Linked DNA regions of Homo sapiens: region 2 is linked to region 1. The links come from fine-mapping of genetic effects on gene expression. Tissue or cell type: pancreas. Region 1 holds a variant in brackets; the other region holds the start of a gene. All regions are shown on one strand. Distances are from middle to middle.

What was found. PIP is the estimated chance that this variant, and not a neighbour inherited with it, causes the effect. A credible set is the group of variants that fine-mapping cannot tell apart.
Region 2: CLPSL1 starts here. The variant in region 1 is the best candidate, but not a certain one, in a credible set for the expression of CLPSL1 in pancreas (GTEx, PIP 0.61).

The regions. Positions count from the first base shown.
Region 1 is chr6:35,722,716-35,727,974 of GRCh38, forward strand. LOC285847 (a long non-coding RNA gene) reads right to left here. Exons shown (of 10, transcript NR_027117.2): 10 at 4,047-4,418. It also overlaps a transcript of FKBP5 not described here. Among named protein-coding and RNA genes, the nearest start is that of ARMC12, 12 kb to the right of the region's middle. RefSeq lists silencers at 3,127-3,303, 5,209-5,259. The variant G/A (reference allele first, on the strand shown) is at 2,150.
Region 2 is chr6:35,778,899-35,783,898 of GRCh38, forward strand. CLPSL1 (colipase like 1) reads left to right here and starts at 2,121. Exons shown (of 3, transcript NM_001010886.5): 1 at 2,121-2,311. The coding sequence starts at 2,213. It overlaps CLPSL2 (colipase like 2), which reads left to right. Exons shown (of 3, transcript NM_207409.4): 3 at 457-654. The coding sequence ends at 552. RefSeq lists an enhancer at 3,232-3,733.

The DNA.
Region 1 (5,259 bases):
ACCCTTGCTCTGCCTGGCCAATTCCTCTCTCCCTGAACCTTCTGCTCTGGCCACACCCAGTCCCCAACTTCCCAAGACATTATAATGATCCGTTTTTGTGCATTTTCCCAAGTAAACCAGGGACTCAGACTTTCCAAGTAGCCCATAGGAGGGCAGCGACCAGGTTTTGTGTCCCCAGTTTGTAGCACAATACTTGGCACACACACACAGTAGGTGCTTAATCAATGCTCAGGCATGGCCGGGCGCGATGGCTCACGCCTGTAATCCCAGCACTTTGGGAGGCCAAGGCGGGCGGATCATGAGATCAGGAGATCGAGACCATCCTGGCCAGCACAGTGAAACGCCATCTCTACTAAAAATACAAAAAATTAGCTGGGCGTGGTGGCGGGGGCCTGTAATCCCAGCTACTTGGGAGGCTGAGGCAGGAGAATTGCTTGAATCCGGGAGGCAGAGGTTGCAGTGAGCTGAGATCACACCACTGCACTCCAGCCTGGGCGACAGAGCGAGACTCCATCTCAAAAAATAAATAAATAAAATAAAATAAAAATTAAAATAAAAATAAATAAATAAATGCCCAGGCACAGGTGTAGGACTTTGGTTCCCAGGGCATTAACTCAATTCCTGGGACACACAGTAGGTGCTCTGTAAGTGCCCACTGGATTAACAAGGCTGAGCAATCTGACACTGGCAGAAGCTTGGGGCAAGGTGAGGCATAGGGCGTGGAGGTAGGAACAAATGGAAGATGCTTCCTGGGAAAAAAGATGGTGTCAGAGGGAAGAAGGCAGAAGGGATCTTGGGAAAATTCCCAGAAGACTGGAAATACAAAAAGCAAAAATAAAAAGTAAACACCGATAGATGGAGGTAAACAGGACTCTCAGTGAACAAGGAGAGAGAAATTCAGAAGGAAAGATAAACAAAGAAGAATGAACTCAGAGAAAGAAGAAGGTCAGAAAGACAAAATGTGCCCATGAGAGCCATATTGGACAGATTGCCAGAGACCAGGACAGACCAACTAAATACATTACGTCTGGGGTCCCTGCTTCATCCCCTGGGGGTAGGCAGATAAGGCTGGCACGGGCAGTGTGGTGCTGTGGTCCCTTCCTTGGGTGATAGGGCTGAGTGAAAGCCCACACATCATCAGGACATCCTGGAAAACTTTTCCTCTCTTAGCTCAGGAGAGGCCCTGTGATAGGAAACAAAGTACCCCAGACAGCAACTACAAACCTAGTTTCTTGCCCTTAGGCAAGCAACTTAGCTGCTCTTGCTTCAGTTTTCCCAGCAGGAAAGCGAGTCTGATTCTTACTTTAGAGGCATATTAAGATCATACTGAGTTAAGGCAGGTACATTAAATGTACACAGCCTGATATAAGTGCCAGGGATTGACATAATGGTGGTGCTTTCTCCCAAAGGCCTGCTGTAAACGGGTCCTAAGAGAGGCCGTGTCACTGTCACTGGGTGCTGCAGATAGACCTGACTTCAGAGCCCTGGAACCCAGGCTCAGCCCCTGGTTTTTGGATCCCAGAGCCAAATCAATACAACCAGGAAGTTTATTCCTGGGTGAAGGGTGAGGGGCAGCAGGCATGCCAGCCAGCCAAGAGACACACGGAGCCCACAGCCAGCAGGCCTGACTGTCCAACTCCACTGCTGAGACTGTCCTCTGGGGCCTTGCTAGTATCCAGATTTCAGCCTGTCGAATGGGCTAAAAACAATTTTCTAGCTGTCAGATCACACCTCAAGGCATGCAGGAGCTCCAAGGAGGCAGAGTTCTCCTTCATTTGAAGGGAGAAGGGAGTAAGACTCTGAGGCTTGAGAAATGGAGAATTTGCATTTTAGTTACATAATCTGAGCAATCTTGAAGACTATTTTGAAGTGCTGGCTTTGGCCAGGTGTGATGGTTCACACCTGTAATCCCAGCTACTTGGGACGTTTACTCAGGAGGCTGAGGTGGGAGGACTGCTTGAGCCCCAGAGGTTGAGGCAGCAGTGAGCCATGATCTCCCCACTGTACTCCAGCTTGGGCAACAGGGTGAGACCTTGTCTCAGAAAAAAAAAAAAAAAGGTGCTGGCTTTGATGTCAGACAGACCTGAGTGTGAATCTCAGCTGAGCTCTGTTATTTTTCTGAGCCTCAGTTTCCTTAACTGTCAAAGAC[G/A]GCTAACAATAGCACCCACACCCCAGAATTGTTGTGAGGAGTAAATGGGATCCTGTAAATAAAGACCTGAACCTCAACCTTGGGTCTAGTAGTGAGTCTCCTGTGCCACAGTCTTTGGGTTCCAAACGCTGTTGGGGGTTGGTGTGCAGAGATAGTTCTCCATATAAGCAATCAAGATTAGCCATCAATGTGAATAATAATATCCCATGCTCCTGGGGGAGAAAGGCCAGATCATAAACGTATTGATCTCTCAATATCTAAGCCACTTTGAGGAGATTAAACTGGTCACAACTCAGAAAATCATTGAGAAATCATCAAGTGTCAAATTCCATTAGGAATGTGTGACTCCTGGGGGTGAGAGGATGGGTAGATCCCCCTCCCTGCCGCGAGGCCCCCACCTCTGCCTCTGTTCTCTGTGACTGACAAGGAAGGATCTGTGATTACCAGGTCTGCCGAGCTCTTGGAGGCAACTTACATAGTGCTGTCACTTGTCTAGCTGGGCTCAGGAATATTGCTAAAAGGCTTGGGAAACAAGGCTGGCAAGGGGAGAGGGATCAGCCTCAAGGGTCCAGAGAAACTCCAGACCTGGTGTGGAGACTCCACAGCTTTAGAGGCAGTTTCAAGGCTGGGTGATGGGAGAGAGAAAGGACTGGGGGCTTCACCCTTCTGGAGTCTAACTTCTCCAGGGTCTCTCTGCACCCCACCTTCCCACCCCCAGCAAGAGTTTAGAACCTAAAGACGGGGAGTGGGAAGCAGGAGACTCATTTCTTGATCCATGGGGAGTTGGGGAGCCCAAGTGGAAGATGGGGAGATGAGAGCAGGGGTAACTGACAGCAGGATGCCACAGCTAAAGAAGGAAGTATAAATATAAAGCGGCCAGTGTAGGACTGGACAGAGGCCATATGAAACACACGGTACATTCCGGTCCCAGCGTAACAAACTGTACCAGCCTTTTTGAGAGCTGTGAGCACTAAAATGGGGAGGGAAGAGAGCAGAGGTTCCTTCGAGGTTGGCCCTGCCTCCTCCTCCCCCACTTCTCCCACAGCTCGGGGCACCGCAGGGAAAGTCCTGATGTTCCTTTTGCAACCACAGGAAACCTACCATCCCTGCTCACACTCTGTACCCTGTTCCTCTCAGCAGCTCCAGACTGGGAGGGAGCAATGAGTGTGTATGCATGGGGGTGTTTGGGGGAATGTAGGGTGCAGACAGCCCCAGCAGCCCAGGTGACACCCGGAAAGGCGGCAAGCATCACTTGGATACTGACTGGAAGTCACAGCCTGTAAGGGCTGCAAGAGAGGTACAGATGACGGTGAGGAAGTGCCTTGTCCAAGGTCACACAGGCAGTTGTTCACCAGGGTGGGACCAGAGTGCATCCAGAACTAGGCAGTGCTGGGCAGCTCTCTTGGGTGTAGTACGTAGGAGTGGCAGGCCAGAGAACAGGCAGTGCCCAGGGACTGAGGGTGGGGAGCCCAGATCCAAGGCTGCCTCTATGCTCTGGTTGGCTTTGGGAAGGCAGGCCTGGCTTGGGCACTGTGCCCTCCAAGCCTCCCAATCCTATCCCCCCAACCTTAAATATTAGAGATAATGCATGTGAAGTGCCTAGCGTGGAGGTTGTTTTGTGGTGATGTCAAGCAGAATGAGTCACGTCCACCCCTCCCATCTCCTCCTCCTCCACACACACACACACACACACACACACACACACACACACACACACAGCTCAAGGCCTAGAACCTCCTGGGATCTTTCTCCCATATCTTTCTCCCTAGAACCACCTTCTTTCTTCTGAGTCCCTATAGCTATTACACACATTTGGTACTCACCACCTGCTGGCTTGGGTTATTATTTAACCTAACATCCAGCGTGTTTGTCTCTTCAATTGCCCAAGGGGAGGATATCATTTCAATACACCCAATATTTATTGAACATGAACTCCGGTGCCAAGCCTGGCCTGTGGGGGATGAGTTGGAATGGTGGTGGGAGGCGGGGGCAGTGGAGGAGAGGGCTCAAAGAAGAAGCAGACTTTGTTTCTGCCTCAAGGACTTTCTAATCTGGTTAGAAGAACAGGATTAGTAAACAGATCGCTAGAATATGAGACAGGCCACACGCTGTGCCGTGAGAAAGGTACAAACTGAGTGTGCTGGGCGTTCAGAGGAGACAGGAATCAGATTTGGCTGGCACTGTTTCAAGGAAGCTTTATGAGCTGGAGCAGCAGAGATGGGTAGACAGGGAGGACAGGCACTCCTGGCATGAGAAATGGCACAGCAAACTGTGGAGGTGGGAAGGAGGGAGAACAAAGGACTTCAGGACTGTGTCTTAACCTCATGGTGACATTCTTTAGCAGGACCCAATACAGAGCCTTCCACACGGTAAACGTGCGATATAAATGCTTTGTTCCCTCCTTGGTTTGGAGAGGGTGGGATCTTTAGGACCAGCACTTAGTGATGTCTTTCCACAGAAGGATGGGTAAGGAGAAAACGTGGCTCTGAATAAACCAGGGGTTTGGAGCTAAACACAGGGAAGGGTCAGATTCCAGGGGCAGTTTGGGGTCGTCTTCCTTGGCCTTGCCCTTCTTTCACCCTGTCGTCCACACCCACTCGCCAGTGTCTGGGCTCTCCCTACTCCCGGCGTCGTGCCAGGGATTTCCCAAACCGTCCAAAAGGGCTGGGCTTGGTTTGCCAGCCCCGGGAATCCCTGGAGTCTCCGTGTTCCAGGCTTCTGTGAAGGATCAGGGAAGGGGGGCTAGGAAAGGGGAGGCTCCTCCTGGGGATTGCTTGAATTGGCCCCCTCAACACGGGCTTCCGTTGTCACGTGACTGCGTCCCAGGTCTCGCAAGTCTGGGGCTGGCGAGCTCCAGCTATCCTCCTCCCGCCCCCCGGACTGAGCGCTGGAGAAGCACGGACTGAGCGCTGGAGAGCGCTGGCGGCAGCCTGGGTGGCTCCTTCTGCTCGTAGAGCTCCCCACACCTGCTCCCTCCCCCAGCTGTGCTAATCCAGGCGCCACCCAAGCCTGGGGTACCCAAGCAGGGGCAAATGGGGGATGGCTAGGTCTGGGTGCTCCAAGGCCGGTGAGTGGGCAGGGCTGCGGGGCCCACGCGCGCCCCGGAGGTT
Region 2 (5,000 bases), 56 kb after region 1:
TTCCTCTGCCTCAGCCTCTGGAGTAGCTGGGATTACAGGCATGTGCTAATTTTTATATTATTAGTCCATGACCATGTTGGCCAGGCTAGTCTCAAACTCCTGACCTCAGGTGATCCACCCGCCTCGGCCTTCCAAAGCGCTGGGATTACAGGGGTGAGCCACCGCGCATGGCCTAAAGGGTCTTTTTATTATCACCACTTGATCTGCTCTATCTCATTTAGTCCTCACAACAACCCTATGAGGGGGGTTACTATTACTGTCCCCATTTGACAGATGAGGAAACCGAGCTGGAGAGGTTCATTGACTTGCTGAAGGTCACGCAGTTATAAGCTGTAGAGACAGCCCAGGTCTGTCTTACTCCAGGCCTGGTACTCTTGGTTCTGGTCCCCAAGAAGTTTAAGTCCCCATCCTTCCTGCATCCTGGTGACTCCCGATTCTCATACCCACTCCCTGCAGACCAAGGGAGCTACCAACATCATCTGCCCTTGCCGGATGGGCTTGACGTGCATATCCAAGGACTTGATGTGTTCCCGCCGGTGCCATATGATTTAGAGGAAGATGCAGGCTGGTCACTGCTCCCTTGGGGCCATAGGCCCTGGTTGCCACCAACTTGCTCCAAATCCAGCTCCTGAGACATTAAAGTCACTTCCTGTCCTTGGCCTCTGTCTGTACTTTCTGGGCGAGGGGACCTGGTGGAGATTGTACCAGTCCAGGGGGCAGGCAAAAGGGGAGACTGGAGGCATGAATGAGCTTCTAATGGGATTTGGCCCTGTCCGGAGGTCAGGGTAGAACTGCAGGAAGGGAATGGCACAGGGAGGGTGTGGTGGAGCAGGGGCTGGGTCTGGGAAAGGGCTGATTCTCTGGTTGGAGGGCTGTGTGGGAGAGACGGGATTGAGGAATGTACCTGGAGAGTGTATGTTGGGGTGCCTATGGAGGGGTGTGTGGTAGGGAGAGACTAGGTGGAGGTATCTGAATGTTTTGCGGGGCGGGTTGTGGGGCACAAAAGGGTAGAGATCATTAGAGAGTTGGTGAGAATGTGCAAAGTATAAATGCAGAAATGCCTGTGGTGGGAAAGGGACCTGGTGCATGGATGCCTCCGCTCTCTCAGGTATTGTCGGTTCACTGCATGGACAAAGAAACTGAGGCCCAGAGAAGCGACATGACTTGCCCTAGGTCATATCATTGGGGTAGCAGTGAGGCCTCTTTCTGCTGCAAGTATCTTAAAAACCAACTCAAATTGGTCTAGGTGAGGAGGGGATTTACTGGTGATGGGAAATGAAAGTCCAGAGGTCAGGCAACCCTTAGGTAGGGCCAGAGCCAGCAGCTCTCAGGCTGAATTCCTTCCCAGTAGTCACAAACATTCCAGGTGTCACCTAATAACAGGTAGGATTTATTGAGCACTTCCTATGTGCCAGACACTGTGCAAAGTGCTTTCTTTTTCATTTAATTAAAAAATTTAAGACAGCACCCAGGCTGGAGTGCAGTGGCTCGATCGCAGCGTACTGCAGCCTCAACCCCCTGGGCTCAAAAGATCCTCCCACGTCAGCCTCCCAAGTAACTGGGACTACAGGTGTGTGACACCATGCCCGGCCAATTTTTTTTCTTTTTCTTTTTCTTTTTTTTTTTTTAATAGAGACAGGGCCTCACTGTATTGCCCTGGCTGGTCTCAAACTCCTGGGCTCAAGTGATCCTCCTGCCTCAGCCTCCCAAAGTGCTGGGATTACAAGCATGAGCCACTGCGCCTGGCCCAAAGTGCTTTCTTAACTGTATTGACTCATCTTTTTGTCACAACAGGGCTATAGTAGGTGTTATAATTATCCCTATTTTACAAACAGGGTATCGAGGCTCCTAAAGTAAGGGTTGGAACTGAGACTTGAACCCAGACAATCCTGCCCCAGAGGCCAGGCTCTTAACCACAAATCCACCATGTACATCAATACTGTGCCTTTCAGAGAAAGAAAACATCTCTGTTCCACAATTTTCAGCAAACATCCTAAGATCGGTTCTGATTGGATTGGCTTAGTCTGCCTGAACTAATTATTGTGGTGGAATTTGCTGATTGGCCTAGCCTGAGTATTGTGCAGGATGGGAAAATTCTGACGGGGTTGGGTGCTGGTTTTACATGGTGTTCCCACAGCTGGGAGGACACCCACATGGTCGGCGTGCAGGATATTTCGCTGGACCCTAGAAAAGCCACCACGACCTGTGGGCCATGATGCTACCCCAATGGCTGCTGCTGCTGTTCCTTCTCTTCTTCTTTCTCTTCCTCCTCACCAGGGGCTCACTTTCTCCAACAAAATACAACCTTTTGGTAAGAAAGCTGGAGAGTGCAGTCACCTCCCCCTCCACTGTCCTAAGGCCTGTACTATTTGGGGAGGTGAGCGGGCATGGGGGCTAGTGTGGGAGAAGGCCAGAAGTGGGGGCAGCAGGGAGTGTTGGGTGGAAGATGTCTCGGAGGAAAGAGAGAACAACCTGGTCCTGGAAGCTGTGCCAGGGCAGTGCCAGGTGCTGCTGCCACAGAGGTGAATGTGAGAGAGCCCCCCTGCCCATGCGCACATGTGGTAAGGGAGACAGATATTCACTCATGCAACACATTTTTATTGAGCACCTACTATATGTAAATTATTTTTCTACATTTAGTGATAGGGCTGTGAGCAAGAAAGATAAAAATCCTTGCCCTTGTAGAGCTGTCACTCTAGTGTGTGAGGCAAAGAAGTAAAACATTACAATAGATGCTATTAATAATAGCATCTATCTCAGGTGATAAGCAAGGAAAGGGAAAATAAGAATCGAGCTGTGGGAGTGGTGGTGTGAGAAGGGTTTGCAGGTGTTTTTTTTTTTTTTCTTTTTCTTTTTCTTTTTTTTGGGACAGAGTCTTGCTTTGTCACCCAGGCTGGAGTGCAGTGGGGCAATCTCGGCTCACTGCAAACTTAGCCTCCTGAGTTCAAGCGATTCCCCTGCCTCAGCCTCCCGAGTAGCTGAGATTACAGGCACCCACTGCCACGCCCAGCTAATTTTTTTTTCTGTATTTTTAGTAGAGACAGGGTTTCACCGTATTGGTCAGGCTGGTCTTGAACTCCTGACCTCAAGCAATCCACCCGCCTTGGCCTCCCAAAGTGCTAGGATTACAGGCGTAAGCCACCGCACCTGGCCAGGGTTTGCAGTTTTAAATGGGGTGCTCAGGGAAGAGTTTACTAAGAATGTGAAATTTTAGCAAAGACCTAAAGGGAGGGAAGTCCTTCCTAACCGGCAAAGCAGGGGGGTCTCTGGGAGAAGAGCATTCAAGGTGGAGGGAACAGCCAGGGCAAAGGTCTGGGGGCGGAAATGTGCTGGCATATTCAAGGAATAGCAAAGAGGAGTAAGAGAGAGTGGAAATCATGGGAGATGAGCTCAGAGAGATAAATGGAACACAGTTACAATATTCTCATTTATTCAACAGTTATGCATTCAGCACCTGCAATGTGTAAGGACTTTAGTCCAAGGGGGCTAAGAAATATAGCAGTGAACGTGAGAGCAGAAGATCCATGTCCCAGAGCTGAGGTTGCTAGCGGGGGAAATAAATTATTTTTAAACATATAAATAAGATGATTTCAGAGAGTCATAAGTGTTGTGAACAAAGTACAACCAGGTGATGGGGACTGCTCTGCTGGTGTCCAGGAAGTCTTCAGCCTGAGGCAGGAGGGGGAGGCAGCCGGGCAAAGAGTGCAGGACAGGGTGCTCTGGGCAGAGGGCCAGCAAGCGCAAATGCCCTGGGGCCAGGCCAGGTGTGGATTCAGAGCCCCAGTGATGGCTTTGAATCCAGAGAATGGCATTGTGGGAATTATCTTTTAAAAAAGACTCCTCTAGCTATTCTGGGAAGAACTGACTTGAGGAGGTTGGGGAGGTGGAAGTGAGAGTGGGGATGGTGAGGGGGTACCTGGGGGAGGTCACTGGCAAGGATGGAAGCAGGGAGGCCGGGAGGCGGCTATAGCCAATCCTCCTTTCCTGCCTTATTTTCTTTATAGCACATAATCGTACATAATAGGATTATACATATATAATATAAATATTACTTATTGTTATGTATATAACATATGTGGTAAAAATCACACCTTACTAGGTGCTCAGATCTTGAGTTTACATGGAAATCAATGGATTCGAACCTATGCAGACCCCCTCATCACTACCGTCAGAACAAGATATAGGACATTTTCATTACCCCAAAAGCCTCACTCTTACTCTCCTAGTCAATAGCACCAAAGGCAACTGTCTCCTGACTTCCATTATTATAGATTAGTTTTGAACTTTGTATGATGAAATCACACAGTATGTACTTTTAAAAAAAAATTTGGGCCAGGCGCAGTGGCTCACGCCTGTAATCCTAACACTTTGGAAGGCCGAGGCAAGTGGATCACCTGACGTCAAGAGTTCGAGAACAGCCTGACCAACATGGTGAAAGCCCATCTCTACTAAAAATACAAAATTAGCTGGGTGTGGTGGCACATGCCTATAATCCCAGCTACTTGGGAGGCTGAGGCAGGAGAATTGCTTGAACCCGGGAGGCAGAGGTTGAACTAAGCCAAGAAAGTGCCATTGCACTCCAGCCTGGGCAGTAGAGTGAGACTTTGTCTCAAAAAAAAAAAGGGGGGCTGGGCGCGGTGGCTCATGCCTGTAATCCCAGCATTTTGGGAGGCCGAGGCAGGCAGATCACGAGGTCAGGAGATCAAGACCATCCTGGCTAACACAGTGAAACCCTGTCTCTACTAAAAATACAAAAAAAATTAGCTGTGCGTGGTGGCGGGTGCCTGTAATCCCAGCTACTCAGGAGGCTGAGGCAGGAGAATGGCGTGAACCTGGGAGGCACAGCTTGCAGTGAGCCGAGATCGCACCACTGCATTCCAGCCTGGGCGACGGCGAGACTCTATCTCCAAAAAAAAAAAAAAAAAAAAATCTGACTTATTTTGCTCAACGTTTTTTCTGTGATACCGTATCATTTCACTTATGTATCTCTTCCCTGTCTT